Regions from separate parts of the Homo sapiens genome. Here region 2 is linked to region 1. Evidence: fine-mapped expression QTL. Tissue or cell type: whole blood. Region 1 holds a variant in brackets; the other region holds the start of a gene. All regions are shown on one strand. Distances are between the middles of the regions. Region 1 has its middle 75 kb from the start of PID1. Region 2 holds the start of PID1 (phosphotyrosine interaction domain containing 1).

Evidence for each region. PIP is the estimated chance that this variant, and not a neighbour inherited with it, causes the effect.
Region 2: it holds the start of PID1, and the variant in region 1 is fine-mapped to the expression of PID1 in whole blood (TOPMed, PIP above 0.99).

The regions. Positions count from the first base shown.
Region 1 is chr2:229,341,950-229,350,286 of GRCh38, reverse strand. No RefSeq gene overlaps it. Among named protein-coding and RNA genes, the nearest start is that of PID1, 75 kb to the right of the region's middle. The variant A/G (reference allele first, on the strand shown) is at 3,569.
Region 2 is chr2:229,266,465-229,274,801 of GRCh38, reverse strand. It overlaps PID1 (phosphotyrosine interaction domain containing 1), which reads left to right and starts at 3,515. Exons shown (of 3, transcript NM_001100818.2): 1 at 3,515-3,788. The coding sequence starts at 3,759.

The DNA of each region.
Region 1 (8,337 bases):
CCTCCCAAAGTGCTGGGATTACAGGTGTAAACCACCATGCCCGGCCTGTCATTTTTAATACTGAGCAATTAAACTATGGTTATAACTTGGCTTTCAGCCCTAGATGAGCCACAGATGTGCTTTTGTTTGTCCTACACCATATGTTTAAATGTGTAAACCAAAATTAATAATTAGGATCTCTCTGTCTCTCTCACACACACACACACACACACATACACACTCCACTCACACAAATCAGTTTTCTGGCTTACCTTGAAAACTCAGAAATGTGATTGCACCATCCATATGGAGACAGGAGAAAGGAAAAAAACAGGCAGACAGTTAAGACAGGTCACTGGTAGAATTGTTTTAAACAGAGAAATAGGCTGAAAAATCAACCTACAGCTACACAGATAAGGGGACAAGCCCCAACATAGAAACACCTTTGTTCATTGTATAATCAGCGGACTCCCAGGAAAGTTTCCTCCCCTTTTGTGGACATGTACCTGGTGGCTCCGTGGGAACTTTCTTGGCGGGGGAGGCTTGCCTGAGACATGTCCACAGCTGTACAGATAAGGGCAGTTACACAGGCCACTACATAGACAAGGACAATTTCTTATAAAAACATTTATATTCAACTGTAAAATGGCAACCCTCTCCACTGCAGAGAGCTTTCCTCTTTTGCTTATTAAACTTTCACTCCAACCTCACCCTTGGTGTCCGTGCTCCTTAATTTTCTTGGTTGTGAGACAAAGAACTCAACACCTCAGACAATAAGATTGCTTCATTGACCCTAGATGGCTTCATTATTACCACATGGCAGCAAGTGGCTGAAATGGAAATGAAACTGCCCCTTTTAGATAGTTGGGCACAAACCCCACCACTCCCTATTGTCTCACTGACACTAAAGGTGAATGTCAGTTACTACTTATAATATTTTTTGCCCAGTTATTTTTGTTTTAGTTTTGCTTTATTTTCATTTTGTGGATAAACATTTCTCTATATCCATGCCATCAAAACAGGTATATGAGCATTAGTTGAGTGGGCTGTGTGTTTCAAGGAAAATGAGCAAAAGCATAGTTATTGTGGAAGTGAAGACTATTTGTATGTGTTTAATACCCCCCAAACCCCTGACCAGTTGACTAAGTCACATTACTTTCCTGTCCCTAGGATCTCAGCACTAGATCAGTAACTTTTAAAGCTGTTTTTTAATAAAAGTATGTTGTCTTCCAGTGAAATACTACATGGATGTGTGGTATATAAAACAGATTAAAATGAACAAGATGTTCTGATCAAACCTGGATAAGAGGTCCTGGTGGCCAGGCCCTTTGGCCTCCTCTTCCCACCACCCCTAACCCCAATGGTCTCTGAGGGGATGTGAGGAGCCATGAGTCCCACAAAGAACAGTTTGAAGACCACTGGTCTAGCTGATCCACCCCAAGACTCTTCATCTTCCCATCCTTCAATCTGTCCATCTGTCCAGCAGATTGATAATGAAGCACTCGGCGTGTGTAAGTCGAGTGCTAGGTGTTAACTGAATTAGCTGTCGTTATTTGTTAGGCTTCTCCACTGTAAAATTACCTTTTCCCTCCTTCTCTCCATACTGTACTCTTTGGAAGGAAGTCACTATGTGTAGCCCATGCTTAAGGAGAGGGGAGTGATGCTGCTCCACTTCCTTAAGGACAAAATATCTACTTAAACTGTTTGGAATTTGGCACGAGAAACTTGTTTATTCTTCCTTAGTTACTTATTTAATCAATAACTTGTTTATACTAGTATGGACTCCTGGACATCTTTGTTATAGTTTGGAGTATAATTTAATACTTCTTTATTTTTTTGCTCAAAATGTTCAGTACAGCATTTGCCCTGTGGATGCTAGATGCTAGAATGAAGACAGATGTTAGGAACATGTCATTGCATCAGGATGTTGCAATGTTACAGGGTGTTGTGGGAAATTCAAGCAGAGAAAAATCTAATAGATTCCATAGAAATCAAGGAAGGTTTCATGACGTGTCATCTTAGTCAGGACCTGAAGGATGGGTAGGAATTACCCATGTGAAGGGAGGGGAGGGTGTGTGAAGCTGCAGAGGGTGAGAGCGGACACTTCTGAGGGACTAAAAACAATGGAGTCAGGCTGGAGCTTCATTGTGCAAGGTTAGGGTGAGCATGCACAACGCTAGGACCCAGCAATTTTACTCCTCGGTAAATGCCCAAGAGTGACAAAAGCATGTGTTTGTTTAAAAGAGTTTTGTACAAGAATATTTATGGCAACCTTATTTATAATTGTCCCCAATACAATAGAATACCATTAAAAAATAAAAAGGAAAGAAGTACTGAAATATGCAGTGACACGTCTAAATCTCACAGGCGTTAATGTTGAGGAAAAAAAACAAAACAACACAACAACAAAAAAAAAACCAGACACAGCAGAGGGCCTAAGGCATGATTCTATTTATGTGCAATTCCAAATCTAGGAAAACCAATTTATGGTGATAGAAATCCAAACAGTCTTTGCCTCTGGAGGGTGGGGGTATTAACTGGGAAAGGGGCACAAAGGACATTTCTTGGGCATGAAAATGGTCTGTGTCTGGATTTGAGTGATTGTAGCAAGAGAAAAGCATCTGTCCAATGACATCCAATTATAGACTTAAGATCCATGCCTTTTACTGTATATAAACTTTTAAATAATGGAGCTTAAAAAACAAGACCACCAAAGAAAAGTACAAGAGAGAGGGTGGGTAAATGGAGAATTGGGAGTCGGGCAGGAGCTGAAAAACTTTTGGGTAGGGTTGGGGTTGTTTCCATGCCAGGGAGAAAGCAAAGGTCATGTGTTGGTCAGGGAGGAAGACCCTGCTGCAGGGATTCAGGCAGAAATAAATTATAGTGTCTTATAAACCTCAGCTTCTGGACTGAATCAGCAGCTCCATGATTTTGTAATGTAGGTTTTTCTTGGATGAATTTCCACGCTAGTCATTTATAATTTTCTAATCTGCAGATTAAAATTTAACCCACAGACACATTCCCAGGCTACTGTGTGGCAGAAGAGACCCATAGACAACCAATTGTTGTCATTTTTCTGCTGGTTTATTTGAAAATCTCCAAATTACTAATGAGAATGTTCACAACATTGAAATCCTTTTATTATTAAATGAGTCTATGCAGAAAATACTTTATGGTTAAATTATCTTTTAATAAGGCAATTTCCTGCTTTCCCAACCCAAAAGGCCCCTTAACAATTTGAAATTCAGATATTGTGGTTGCCTTATGTCAGAGCCAAGCAACTCTTGCATCCTTTCAGAAAAGTGACTCCCATGGGGAATTTCAATTTAACTCATTATAGCATGATTTTTCTTACAGTGACGTGTCTGTAAATCCCTTGTCATAAAGAGTATAATAAACATACAATGTGGTCCTGAGATCAAGCTTTTAGGAGGATCTATTTCAAAACACACACGTACGTTACACAGAGTGTGTGTGTGCATGTGAAAGAGAGAGACAGACAGACATTCTATGGTAGAGCAGAGTTTTAAAACCAATGAACTAGACCAGGGTTTCTCAAGCTCTGCACCATTAATATCTTGAACTGGAA[A/G]ATGGTTTCCTGTTGAGGGCTGTTCTGTGCATTATAGGATGTTTAGTAGCATCTCTGGCCACTACCCACTAGATGCCAGGAGCACCTCCCAGTTGTGACAACCAAAAATGTCTCCAGATATTTCCAAATATCCTCTGGGGGGTCAAAATTACCCCTGAATGAAACTATTGAGCTAGACAATCTGTTTTTCCTTCTATGCTTTTTATTTCTTCCATCTGTCCATTCATTCATTCATTTGTTCATTCATTCATTGTCTCACTCATGCAATTCATTCCATCCATTCATATGACAAATCTTCCCTGAGCACTCACTGTGTAAGGCGCAGGTAGTGTTCTCAAATGCTTCCTCATGACCCACCAGTGTCTAATGACTGGTCTAGGGGTGTGGAGTCAGCAGTGTGCTTCTAGATCTAAAATACTGAATTCTGTAGATGTCTTGCCTTTTCATGATTTAGAGTGATTCAAGAACTCTAATTTTTTTTTTTTTTTTGAGATGGAGTCTCACTCATTCTGTCACCCAGGCTGGAGTGCAGTGGCACAATCTTGGCTCACTGCAACCTCCGCCTCCCAGGTTCAAGCAATTCTCCTGCTTCAGCCTCCAAAGTAGCTGGGATTACAGGCGTGTGCCACCACGCCCAACAAATTTTTGTATTTTTAGTAGAGATAGGGTTTCTCCTTGTTGGCCAGGTTGGTCCTGAATTCCTGGCCTCATGTGATCCATCCACCTCGACCTCCCAAAGTGCTGAGATTATAGGCATGTGCCACTGTGCCCGGCCAAGAATTCCTTCGTAATAAGATAACCTGTGCTCACTATTCCAATAAAAGTAGTTGACATTTATTAAAGGTAACAAAATACTGGCCACAGTGTTGACCAATTTGTCTAAATTGTCTCCTTTAATCCTCACAACAAACTTCTGAGGTAGGAACTTTTATCACTGCCATTTTTAAGGTGGGCAAATTCAGTCCTAGAGTGTTTAAATAGCTTTCCAGATTTCCATTGTTTGAAAGACACAGGCCAGAGCTCATGTTCCCAATCTCCCAGTCATCATCTGTCCATCCACCCCCACCCATCCATTTAGACCTTCATTAATTTATCCATTCAGCAAATGTTTATTAAATGCCTACTATGTAACAGTAAGTTGTTCCCTCACAGCTTTTCAAGATTGCTATGTGAGGGAAGGAAAGGAGTGCCACGGCAGCAGGACCAGGAATTGCCCATGGCCCTGGATAGCAGGAGCTACACCAAGGGTCCTTTTTCTGCTTAACAACAGTGGTGAGGCAGGAGAATAGGGAAAATGAGGCAGGAGAATAGCAAAGGGAATTAAAAGTTGGATAAAGGGCAGAATAAGTAAAAACAGAGAGCAGAAGCAAGATGAAGGGGTGGGTGAGCAAGAAGCAAGATAAGAGGTGGATGTTAAGCAGCCAAAACAAAGAGTAAGATAGAGAAGTGAGCAAGGACCTCATGGCCAGCAGGATCTGGACCAAACCAGGAAGGGGCAGCGCTTCAGAGACAGGCATGCACATTAGAGAGAAAAAGTATCCTTCACATAACCCTGTATGATAATTGGCTACTTAAGATTCATGCATATGGGCTGCGTATCATGCATGTACTTAAAATTATGGGATAGAGGCAGCTTGCAAGTGCATGGAGGCCGAAGTAACTAAACAACACACCTCTCAATCAAAAGGCAGACACTGGCTAGAGATTAGGCAGCCTTGGGAAGAGAAGAAAAAAACACGTAAAAAGACTCAAACTTCACCAAACTGACGCTGATCTCATCTCACAGAGGCCAGTCCATTCTCCTGCCCTGAAAGTGTAATACTGTGCTTAATGAACTTCTGTTGCTTTGCTTTGCTATCTGTTTGTCTCGTCCAATTCTTTATTCGGGACACCAAGAGCCTAGAACTGCGTGGCACCCTCCGTTAACAGTGGGTGCACAGAGAAGCTCCTTCTGAGTCTTAGGTCAGAAGATGAAGAATGAGAATTAGCTCTGAGCTTTGTGTGCAGGGTGTGTGGGAAGAAGGCACTTTCAGAAAGATAGCCAAGCTTTTCATACCAACTCAGGCTTCCTGTGGTTGAAGGGTGGAGGCAGTTTGAAAATTACTCTTTTCACTTTACAGATGGGATGATTGGAGCCCAGGAAGAATGAGAGATGACTCTCCCCGGGTTAGTGGGACATCAGTGCTATGAAGAAACAGAAGATGGGATCACATAGCTGGAAGCACTTGCAGCACGTTTCCTGGCCCATTGTTCACACTCAACACATAAGAACTCATTCTTATTCCTAAAGAGCCCTGGTCTCCATTGGCCATGCAGTGGTCAGCCATGTGCTCAGAAGACAGAGCTGGAATGTAGACAGAAAAAAATGGGCCTCGGAAGAGATGAGTAACTCTGCTTGTTTACCACTTCAACATGTTAGCACAACTCAAGTTACAGAGACTCGTGAGTGCTTCAGCTCTGAATTCAGGGGATTAAGGGAAGAAAGCTTTCGGCGCAGGATAATATTCACTCGGAAAGGCTTCTGTTCCTCTGTCAGGTAGCAAGGGACATGACTCATGCATTTTGTCTTTTATAGGAGTCTTACGGTGTGCTATAAATGGATTTACTTTAATTCTCAAATAGTCTCAGAGGCTAGTGATGATAAATAATTACGTAGTTGAATGTGAACTGTGATCCAAACAGCTTTAAATGTAGAATTAACTCTACATTTAGTGGGTAAACCTGAGGCACTAGGGGGTTAAGCTGATGGTTGATGTACAAGTGGGTCGTTTGCTTTTCAAGGCCTTATTTTCAGGGTTCAGCAGAGTGAAACTTTCTTGAAAGGCTGCGACTGGTTGGATCGCCTCCATCAGGATGGGTATGGCCATGCCATTCCTCAGGTATTTCCCTTGAAGGCAATCACCATTTCACAATGACAGGACCAATTTCCAGCTGTTTTCTTCCAAGGCAGACTCATCCCCAGAAGCATTGCTCCCAAGGCATAACTAGCTTTTCTTCCAGCCCCTTCTGTTTTGTTTAGATGCTTGCTCTACTAGATTGTATGGCCTTTCTGGGTGGAAACTCCACCTTCATTCTTGCCCCACTCACCAGAGGCATCCATGATTTGTTGAGTGATTGACTTCCACACTGTTTCCTATCCTTCTCCCCACCCAATCACATCTGAGTGATTAAGAAGCATCAGTGAACTCTTTCCAGTCCCAACACACTCCCTTACCCAATTCCTTTATTTCCATTATTCCGAATGAATGTGTCTGTATCATATCAGAATTTCCCAAGCTTGCCCGATTGTGGGAATCACTGCCATGCTGTGAAAGTGACAGGTTCCAAGACTTTGCTTACTGGAGACTCTGATTCAACCAACAACTGTTCTGTGCTTGCTTTGGGCTAAGTTTTGAGCCATGTCCTAACAGTTCAGGGTGAATAGATTGATTCAGGTGGATTGTCTTTAAGGAACTGAAGTTGAGGAGGGAGTTCATTGGAGGCTTTGGGTATCTGATGGTAGGAAGTGGGAAGACGGTGTAGAAGGCAAAAGAGCCAGACACCACTTGCCATGTGCCCAGGGCTGAGCTGGATCCATGAACAGGACATTCAGGCCAGCTCAGAGTAGGAAGGCTCTGATCTTGAGGGAGAAGGTAATAAAACAAATAATTGCTGATTAATTCTGTTCCCACCCTGACTATTGTCCATAAAGCCTATCCATCAATTTGCCTGCTGTCAAACCATTGGCACAACAATTTAAGAATCTGAATCCAAGAATCCAACAATTGGGGCTGTGTACTCGCAGGGACTTGGGCCCTTGCTGCATTTCCAAGAGTTCTCTCCCTCTTGCAGTGAGCTCACAAGTGCGCAAGTCTAGGCTCAAAATAGAGCAGTTTTGCAAAACAAAATAGAGAAGTTTTACAGCACAGTTGCACATTTAAATCTAGTTGTGACTGAAAATAACCCAAATCTAGCTCCTAGAGGATGCCAGAACTTATCTATTAATTGTACATTTATTTGTATTAAGAATAGATCTTTCTGTGCAAAATGCTCTCAGACTGAAATAACTAATTTCAGATTCCTCTGGGAAATCAGGGGAAACAAGGCTGCTTACCTGGGTTTGCCTCTTTCAGACTTTCGGGGCGCCCTCCAGTGGCTGGGAGCTGGCTGACCGAGGAGGACCTGAGGATTTGGTGTGGGATCTGCCAGTCAGGTTTGCCTCCAGATTCTGCTTCCCTTGGCTTCTCTTGAGCTTTGCACTGGACATGGGTTCGTTTCTAAGCTATTCATTAACTAAAAAGGGCTGGGAGCCATTGCTCTCTCATCTTGCCTTTGCTGCACAGAGAGAAGCAACTTTTTGGCTCTTGCTTCCACAAGAAAGTCTTCTCCTTCCTAAATAGCAGGGATGCAGTGATGAGGATGGACATGTGCTGTGCTCACTCAGATGGATTTCCCAGCTCCCAACTGCATCCTCAGAGAACTGCCCAGCACAGAGGTGACCCCTGGGGCATCATTTTGCTCTTCTTGGGCAGCAAGCTCTAACTTGTATAAATCATCATATTCTTCAGGGATTTGCCCTTCTGCCTTCAGGTTTATATTATTAAACTATGCTCCTATTTTTACAAAAGGCCTCCTTCTCCAAAGTCAAGACATACAGACCATTTATCACCATGCACAGATCTTGAAATTCCTTTGAAGACCTTGGTAAGGGCTCCAATCCCATACTTATCCCTTGTGTCCTTCCAGTGGCATTCTGGTTGTTTGTGCAACTGTTTCCAATAGAGGTCTTT
Region 2 (8,337 bases), 75 kb after region 1:
AATAATAAAAAGAGAAAGAAACATAATGGGGATGAAAACGAATGTTTCCCACACACCTACCATGTGTCAGGCATGCTGCACATATTAATTCATTCACTCCTCCCCAAAATCCTAAGTATTAAGTAATATTATCACCCATTTTATAGAAGAGAAATCTGAGGTTCAGCAAGGCAAATGACTTGTGAAAAGCTGATACCTAGGTAGACAGTTCGAAGGCTGGGATTCAACCTGAGTCTTCTGCTTGTCCTAGCTCCTTTCCAACATTTACTGAGATTGATAAATATTTTATACATATATTCAAATTATATACATTTTATCCTACTTTAAAAACCATAATTGTATCATTTTCAGCTGCAACACAACTTTATAATTATCCTTTTAAATGCTGCATAATATTTTAATATTTCTTTGATATGCTGGACCATACTTTCATTCACCATTACTCTGACTTGGACATTGAGGTTGCTTATGCTAGGGCTCAGAACCATGAACTAGATCAAATCTGGCTTAACACAATTTCTAGGGATGCTGTAATTATTTTTCTGAACCAAATGTGTGAATAACGCATCTGTGCCTTGTCAAGCTTTTTTGATTTCTGTCATTTGCCTTCAAATGGTATTTATTGACAAGATTAGACCTGTTTCGGTAATTGCAGGAGACTAAGTACATGAAATTAGGCACACATTTACATGCCTAATATTTCTACTCATTGCACCAAAACACCTTCTGCTCATTTTAAGGGTGGTTTCTTGCTCAGAACAAACCTGTTTACATCGTAAGGCAGCATTTTCAGATTCACCAGGAAGGATGAGGTTCCAATGTCACAGAACAGAGCTGGGAGACATTGGCATGCAGGTCTCATCTCTAGCCAGCAGATGTCTCTATTTCATTCACCCTTCATTGCAGGCTCCTCCTGAATGGGAAGACTTGGGAGCAAAATCTATGAGTGGGAGGTTGTCCCATCCTTTTGTCACCTCCCACAAGCCTGCAATTGCCCCTCCTCCACCCCCTCCCCTAGCTTCCTGATTCGTGGCATAAAGGTAATTGAAACAGGAGTGCCATTTGAGTTTAAATACATTCTTTACTTTACCAAATCTGTTTGCAAAGTGGGAACGGTAACTGAAAGCAATCTTTACAGAGCCAAAGCTTTTTCTCTTTAAATAGCACCATACTCCGTACTAAAAGCTGTATTACTGAGTCATAACAATTAATTACGTTTGGAGGTGAGAAGACAGGATTTAACGCTCTAATGCGATTTGAATTTAGGCCGTTAACTCATTCCACTGCTATTTAAAACAAAATCACTTTTCCACGGAAGCATCTGCAAGCAAGGATGGTTTCAGAGCTTAAGTCTGAAGACATCCCTGGCAACTGAATATTCCTGTTTTAGCTTCCTGGGGGGGTTGGGGGGTGGGGTTTATATGCATGTCTGGATTTTCTAGATTTTTGTAATGAATTGCATTTCTTTCTACTTTGGGATTTGATAAAAGAGAACTGGGGGCTGGGAAGGTCATAAGGAATTTTGTAGGTGTGGAGGTGTGCAGGAGGAGTTACCGGAAAAGCAAACAGAGACCATATCACCAAGCATGTGAGGCACATGTCTGTGCGGGCTGACAGGCAAACACCTCATGAAAAGAGATTTATTAATAAGTTCAGAACAAGTAGCAGGAACTGGAGAAGGAGCTGAGAAGGTTCAGGTGGTTATCAGGCAGGAGTGGGAGGGTCCTGTGGATATCCAGGGAGACAGAGACAAGCTCTTCAGAGGCAGCTCTGTGGCTTTGCCAGAGGCTCCTAGAGGCACTGAGGGTCCTGGGCTTGCCAAGGCTGGTGGCACCAACATAGCAACCGCAGGGTCCAGAAGGATCTGCCTGGAATCCTGGATCTGAATCGCCATTGTAACTCCCCACAGTGTGACTCTGTGAACCCTGTGCTCCCCAAGCCTTGGGAGATAGGGGCTTCTGTCCCACGGAGAGTTGCTGCGAGGGTCCGATGAGCTGAGGGTTAGATTCTGGAGTGGTTCCATATCTGGAAATCATTGTAGTCATGCAGAACAAGGAAAATGGACAGATCCTCCTTCCAGACATGGAGTGTGGATTTTGACATTGCATGAGTAGCTCACGGCCCAAGCTGTGCAGCTGTCTCAGTATGAAATGCCTCTCTTTCACACCCCTCTGCTCTCAGGACCCTGCCTTGTAGGAGCCTAGGGCTCCCCACAAACATTGTGTTCTCTCTGCTCCTCTCTTTGGTCATTCTATGTCCTGAGTTCTTCCCACCATGTTCTCCTCTCCCACTCTTCATCAGCTCGAGAATCAGCTTAGTATCCCTGACTTGCCAAGTGCCTTTAACCCCCAGCCCTAGACGGATGCTCTTTCCACTGGGTTTCCATGGTCAGTTAGAGGCGCAGGGCCACATCTCCTGCCCTGAAGTCATCTGACTGTGCACTCTCTAAGCCACTCACTGGCTGTGTGACCTGGACAAGTGACCTAAACCTTATAAGCCTCATTTGTTTGATCCACATGGTGAAAATATTAATAGTTATTTTGCCGAGTTGTCAAGAGAATGGGAAGGGCTGGCCTGTTTAGGACAGGAAGTCATCTCATGGTGGCCGGCACTAGCCGGGGAGCCTCCAGGCCTGCGAGCCCAGAGCGGCTTTCCCTTGGGTTCTGAGAGCCTCCTGCTGCACCTGGCAGATCTCAGGATGAGTTAGTGATTCGGGAGTCTGCATGGCCCTCCTCACCCCTGTATAGGTTAGGAGTCGAGTCCTCTCCCCATCATGAAGCATGGCCTCTTCGTGGCCAATCCCTCTCATCTCTCAGGTCTTACTCCAGGCATTCCCCAGGGCCCTTGTCTAAGAAGCTCTCCTCTCCCCTTCTTCCCACATCTGCCCTGTTTTATCACCACCCGATATAGCACCGGCTTGTTGATGTGTTTGCTCAGTCACGACTCTCTCTCCAAAGCAGAAGGTAAGCTCCAGAGAGAAGGAACATTCTCTTGTCTTCTATTCTGCGTCGCTGCATCCTCAGAACCCAGCATAGGGGCTGGAGCCTAATAGATGCTCAGTTAACTGGAGTGGGAAGAATGAATGGAAGTGTCTCCCTAGCACAGCGCCAGGCACAGCACAGGCACTTCAGAGATGCCTGTTATATGGAAACCCGGGACCCCCGGGGCTACGGTTTCCTTATTTTAGGAATTTCCCCCACCCCCGCCACCCCCGACATCCCCGCTGCCCCCACCACCCCCGGCTCCAGGCCCTTCCCCCCTCAGCCAGTCTGTCCCTTTTCCCAGACCCCAACCCAATGGGGGCTTCCTGCAGGGAAGGGCCGGCTGTTCTAGCCTCCCCATTCACCCCTCACTAGGATTTAGAGTCGGCCGCGCTGCACTCCCGCCCCGCGCGGCCCCTGGGCGCCCGCCCCGGGCATGCTCAGAGCGCGCAGGTCCGGGCGGCGGCGGCGGGGGAGGAGGGAGCGGCCGCCCCCGCCGCCGCCGCGCGCTCGCCGGGCCCGGGCGGAGCTGCGCAGTCCTCTCGCAGCTGCGCCAGGACAGCCGGCGCGCGGCCGTGCCCACAAGTTGCCGGCAGCTGAGCGCCGCGCCTCCTCCTGCTCGCAGCCCCCTACGCCCACCCGGCGGCGGTGGCCAGCGCCAGGACGCACATCCCGCGGACACCGACCCCAGATGTAAAGCGGGACCCCAGCCCCTCGCCCCCCGGCGCGATCGACAGTCTCGCCAGCGTCTCCTCTGCCAAAACCCAGGGCTGGAAGATGTGGCAGCCGGCCACGGAGCGCCTGCAGGTAAGGGGCACCCGGGAGCCGGGGGCCAGCCTGGAGGAGGAGGTGCCCGGGCAGAGGAACCTAGTTTTTGCTTCTGCCTACTTTAGGGGATTTGCCCAAAACCATCTTGTAAGACGCATCGATGGCAACATGATGCTGTCGGTTTACCCAGCGCCAGGAACCCGGCAGGGGTATGGGGATGATGAAATTGATAAACGCACGGGTTCAGGCGTTACAACTTTTGGCTTGGAGGTGCTTGTGTGCGTGTTGGTTGGTACATATAAGGTTGGACTTTCTGACTGGCAATTTAGATTGCATTCCACTGACACAATGCAGTGGTCTGGGGTTAGGATTTTTGAAGCCAGATTTTTTTTTTTTTTTTTTTTTTTTTGTGGTCACCAGGAAAGACAGAACAAGTGATATGTGAAAGCATCCATTTGCCAATATAATGTGGAAATATCAAGCTTGGTTTGGCTTGGTCATGGTATGCTACTTATTTTATTTTTCCCTATTCATTGGTTCTCTCCCTTTATCTTCCTTAAACCCAAGCTCCTTCAGATATTTAAGAATCAAAAGTAGGTTCAGCCAGGAATATTTATGTCCTGGGTTATCCCATCAAAAGTTTTTTACTGCTGTCTCCTGAAATGCCAGACTGCCTTGAATTGGATTCTGGAAGCTGGGGATTTGCGGGAGGCGATTGAAGAGAAAGAGGGACCTTTCCCAGAAGAACTCCTTCAGTGACACGTTGGGCCTTGGGATTGCCCTGGTTGCAAGGTTTGAGGACTGCCTTTTGCTGGCAAATATTGTCAAGAGTCACGGCAGCTACTCTGCCAGATAAAATCCACTGAATCCTGCAGTTAAACTTTTGGCAAGCTAGGAGCCACATTGTTTCGTAGTAAACTTTGAAGACGTGTTTAACTGGTAAAATACAGCACCATTGGAGGCTGAGTGCATCTGAAGACTTAGGACAATGAGGCCAGGCCCTGGCTAGGTTGGAGGCTTCTCAATGAACATTTACAGCCCCAAGCACAGTTTCTCAGATGCAGGGAGAGGCTAACCTTTGTCTAGGAGTCCTCATACAGAGGAACAACCCGCAGAGGGCATTGCATTTAGCAGAAACAGATGCCCCACAGCTCCTTTCCAAAGCTCCCTGGGCCATGATTTGCGGGGAGTGTGTTCAATTTATCAGAGCCTGAGACACCAGACCAGTTCCCCAGGGTCTCAAGTAGAATAAACAAGAAAACCTGCATTTAGCCTTGCAGATGAGGAGGTGGATGACCAACCTCCTAACCCCCTCCTTGTCTTACTAAGAGAATATCAGCACTGGGCTCTGAATGACTGATAGAAGGTGATGTAAATATATTTTGGCAGTGGCACCAGATACCAGTGGCGCATTTGAAGTTCTCCTTCGGTTAAAGGCGTAACTTCTATTCCAAAGGAGCAGAATGATTGAGGGGAGCTGGCAGGTTTCCTGTTCAAGTGCAGAGGGTAGCTTTTGGAAGTCCTTAGAGAGATGTGACCAAAATTCCTTGAGGTGGCTTTTATGGCCTGATGATCTGTACCTCTGAAGAGTTTGTAGATTTTTGACTATTCAAGTTCTTCCTACCGGCCTGTTTCACTTAGGGAATCCTGTGCGCTCTGGAGCATGTGACCCTTGGCAGGTGGGCGCTCTCGCTTGCCTTCCCATAGAGATTGCTCCTCACTAGAAATGTCTCCCCCTTATTTTGTGAAATGTGCACGTGTGCATTTTGGCGTGAGCCTGGTTTATTGCAGTTGGTGTTTGCAATGCGTTTATTTTATTTCAAGGTGTCATGTTGAAAGAACCTGTTTTTAGGCTTTTGAAAGCTCATATAAACAGGGCTTATCACCAATAAGACCGAGTCACTGTTGGAAGGTCCTTACCAACAGGGGGCTCAACTTCATGCTGCCCAAATTTCGATGAGTCTCTTTTGAAAGTACATACATCTCAAGCCTTGAGATTAGAGAAGTGAGACAAATGCGGAAAAATTTTTTTATATCCGTGGCTTCTTCCCAAAGAGTATTGCTTGACTCTCCTTGAAAACACATAATTTATATGTTTTTACTTTTGCCTCTGAGAGAGCTGTTGAGGATGAGATGGTGAGTGAGCTGCTTATCATATTTTATTTACATTCCTTGTGGTTATCTTTGTCACAATCTCTGTTTGCTGTCTGGGGTTTTTTCCTTTTCTTTTCCTTTCACCGTGATATAGAAACATGCCTGTCCGATTCCTCAGTGAGAAGCCACTTTGCCACTCCCAGGCTCTGTGGCCACAGAGATAGCAGTGGATATCATGCTGGATAGGAAACTTGAGAATGAGTTCTGCTCTTTAATGATGTCTGAGCTCCATGTGCCTTTCACAAATCTTTATAAACCTTCTCATTCGACCTCATTAATTTTTTTCTCATTTATCTTTAATACAAACATTCTAATTTAGATGAGCCAGAGTGAAGAAAATTCGTCAAGGAAACATTCCCAGAACTTCCTAATAGGACTAAGGAGTCAATTTATTTTATCAATACCTAGAATCAAAAGAGGGGATGGAAGAAAATAACCAGACCCTTTCTTGATGATATAGTTCATATTCGATGAAGCTGGTTTGAGAAGTCTGTGTCCCAGGGGAGTGTGATAGATCTTTGCGTAGAACAGTCACCCTCTAAATAATGGACTTTTGAGTGTAGCAACTGGCTCCGTTGCTCAGGAAATGGCATCTTTGATCAGGTTTGATTATCATTATTGTTACCCACACTTCTGTGTCCCCACAAAATGATGCTGATATTTTCTGATTTGAGGTTTAGCTGTTTGACCCAAATCCAGCACAGGCAAAGGGACCTATTGCCCTGAGCAGAGCTGCGCTGGGTAATTTCTCATTCAGTCACACAAACCGAGGCAAGTTCATCTGCTCCCTTGAATGTTAAAACTTCTATTGCATCCCACTCGAGCCCTCGCTGGGAGCTTCTGCCATTAAAAATATAATAGGATCAAAAGGGATGTGAAGATTTAATTTACCACCCCAACTTTTTACAGTGAATAAATATGAATTCTTCTCTTTTCACCTTCCCGTCTGCACAGCAGACTTTTTTTTTTTCTTGGAGGTATTGAGGAGTGTTATACATTTTTAAAGAAGCAGATTTGAAACAGACTCCTTTCAGAAAAGTAAAGGAGACTTTTCTGAACAAATAAAAACCCTACTGGTTTTTATGAAATAGAGATGAGATTACCTCTGGCCTTGAAATTTTAAAATTTGTATGAGTTTCTGGATTGACTTGATGATTGTACTGGGTGGATCCCTCAGAAGTAACAAACCCATCCATGCAAGACTGTGTCCCATCCATAGGAACAAGTATTTTCTCAGAGCAAATGTCTTCACTGAGCTACCAGATGCATTTTCTGGAGGCCTTGATAGGAGGAGAAAGATGAATCAAGACTGACTTAGAAACGAAGGAGGTCAACACATCCTTAAAGGTCTTTGGTGTAGTTATTACTAGGATAGAGTGGAATGTGATAGGCGTATGAGTTCTAGCAGATTCTAATTGTGAAGTTTACATGTAACCATCTTCTCATGAGGCATTCTATAAAGGTTCCAATATAATCATCTAGCTGTCTTCACTGAGATTACCATTTCTCCATGGCAGATTCAGAAAAAACAGCTTTTTATTCACAAAGCTGGATTTGAGTTTTGCAGCCTGGGCAATTTTTTCTGTTCCATCCATTACTTCCTTTTTCATCCTCGTTGTGGCCAATGTCTGTGTACTAGCACTTCCACAAGAGGGAGAAACACAGTGAAGAGTAGGGAGGACCCCAGATCCTGAAAAAGCTTTCTTTTGGTTTCTTCTGAAACTTTTGGTTGATGAAGTGGTTGAAGTTTCCAGCTAAATACTATTTGGGGATTTTAGGAGCCAAAGTCCTCCTCTGAGGATTATCTCACCCTTTCTCTGCCTTGTCCTATCTGGTAGATGTTGTCTTGACTTGGAGTGTGGATCGTTCTAGATTTTTCTTCTCTATGATGATGCCACTTTCACTTTTCCCCTGAGAAGTGAGACTGGAGAACCCTCTAAAACGTCAACTGGAGACCATTAGCCCTGGCCCATCAGGCAGGGTGAAAACCGGCAAATCTGATACTTTTCCAGGCTGACCAAATTGACAAAAGGAGCAAGGATTAAGAATGGGAAGATACTAGTAACCTGCTTTTGTGGTGCAGGCACTGTGTGTGGCACTGTGCCGAGGAGCTTTATTTTAACTATCTGGCTCATTTGCATCCTGTAACCACTTTTATCCGCATTTTAGAGAGAAACTGAAGGCCAGAGAGTCGAAGTGATTTGGCCAGCGTTGAGCAGCTAGAAATGAACTGAGCTGGAGTTTGAACCAGACAGTTTGGTTCCAATCCTTACTTCTTAAGCACTTCACCATAGTGCAGAAGGATAAGACAGGCACAGTGCAATGTACATGTTGGTGCTGTTGTTATTAATAAATACAGTTAGAGCAATGACTGTTTTGTGGGCTCAGAGAGGCTGCTGTCCTATTTCTTGCTGAAGCAGTGGGTTGACCAAAG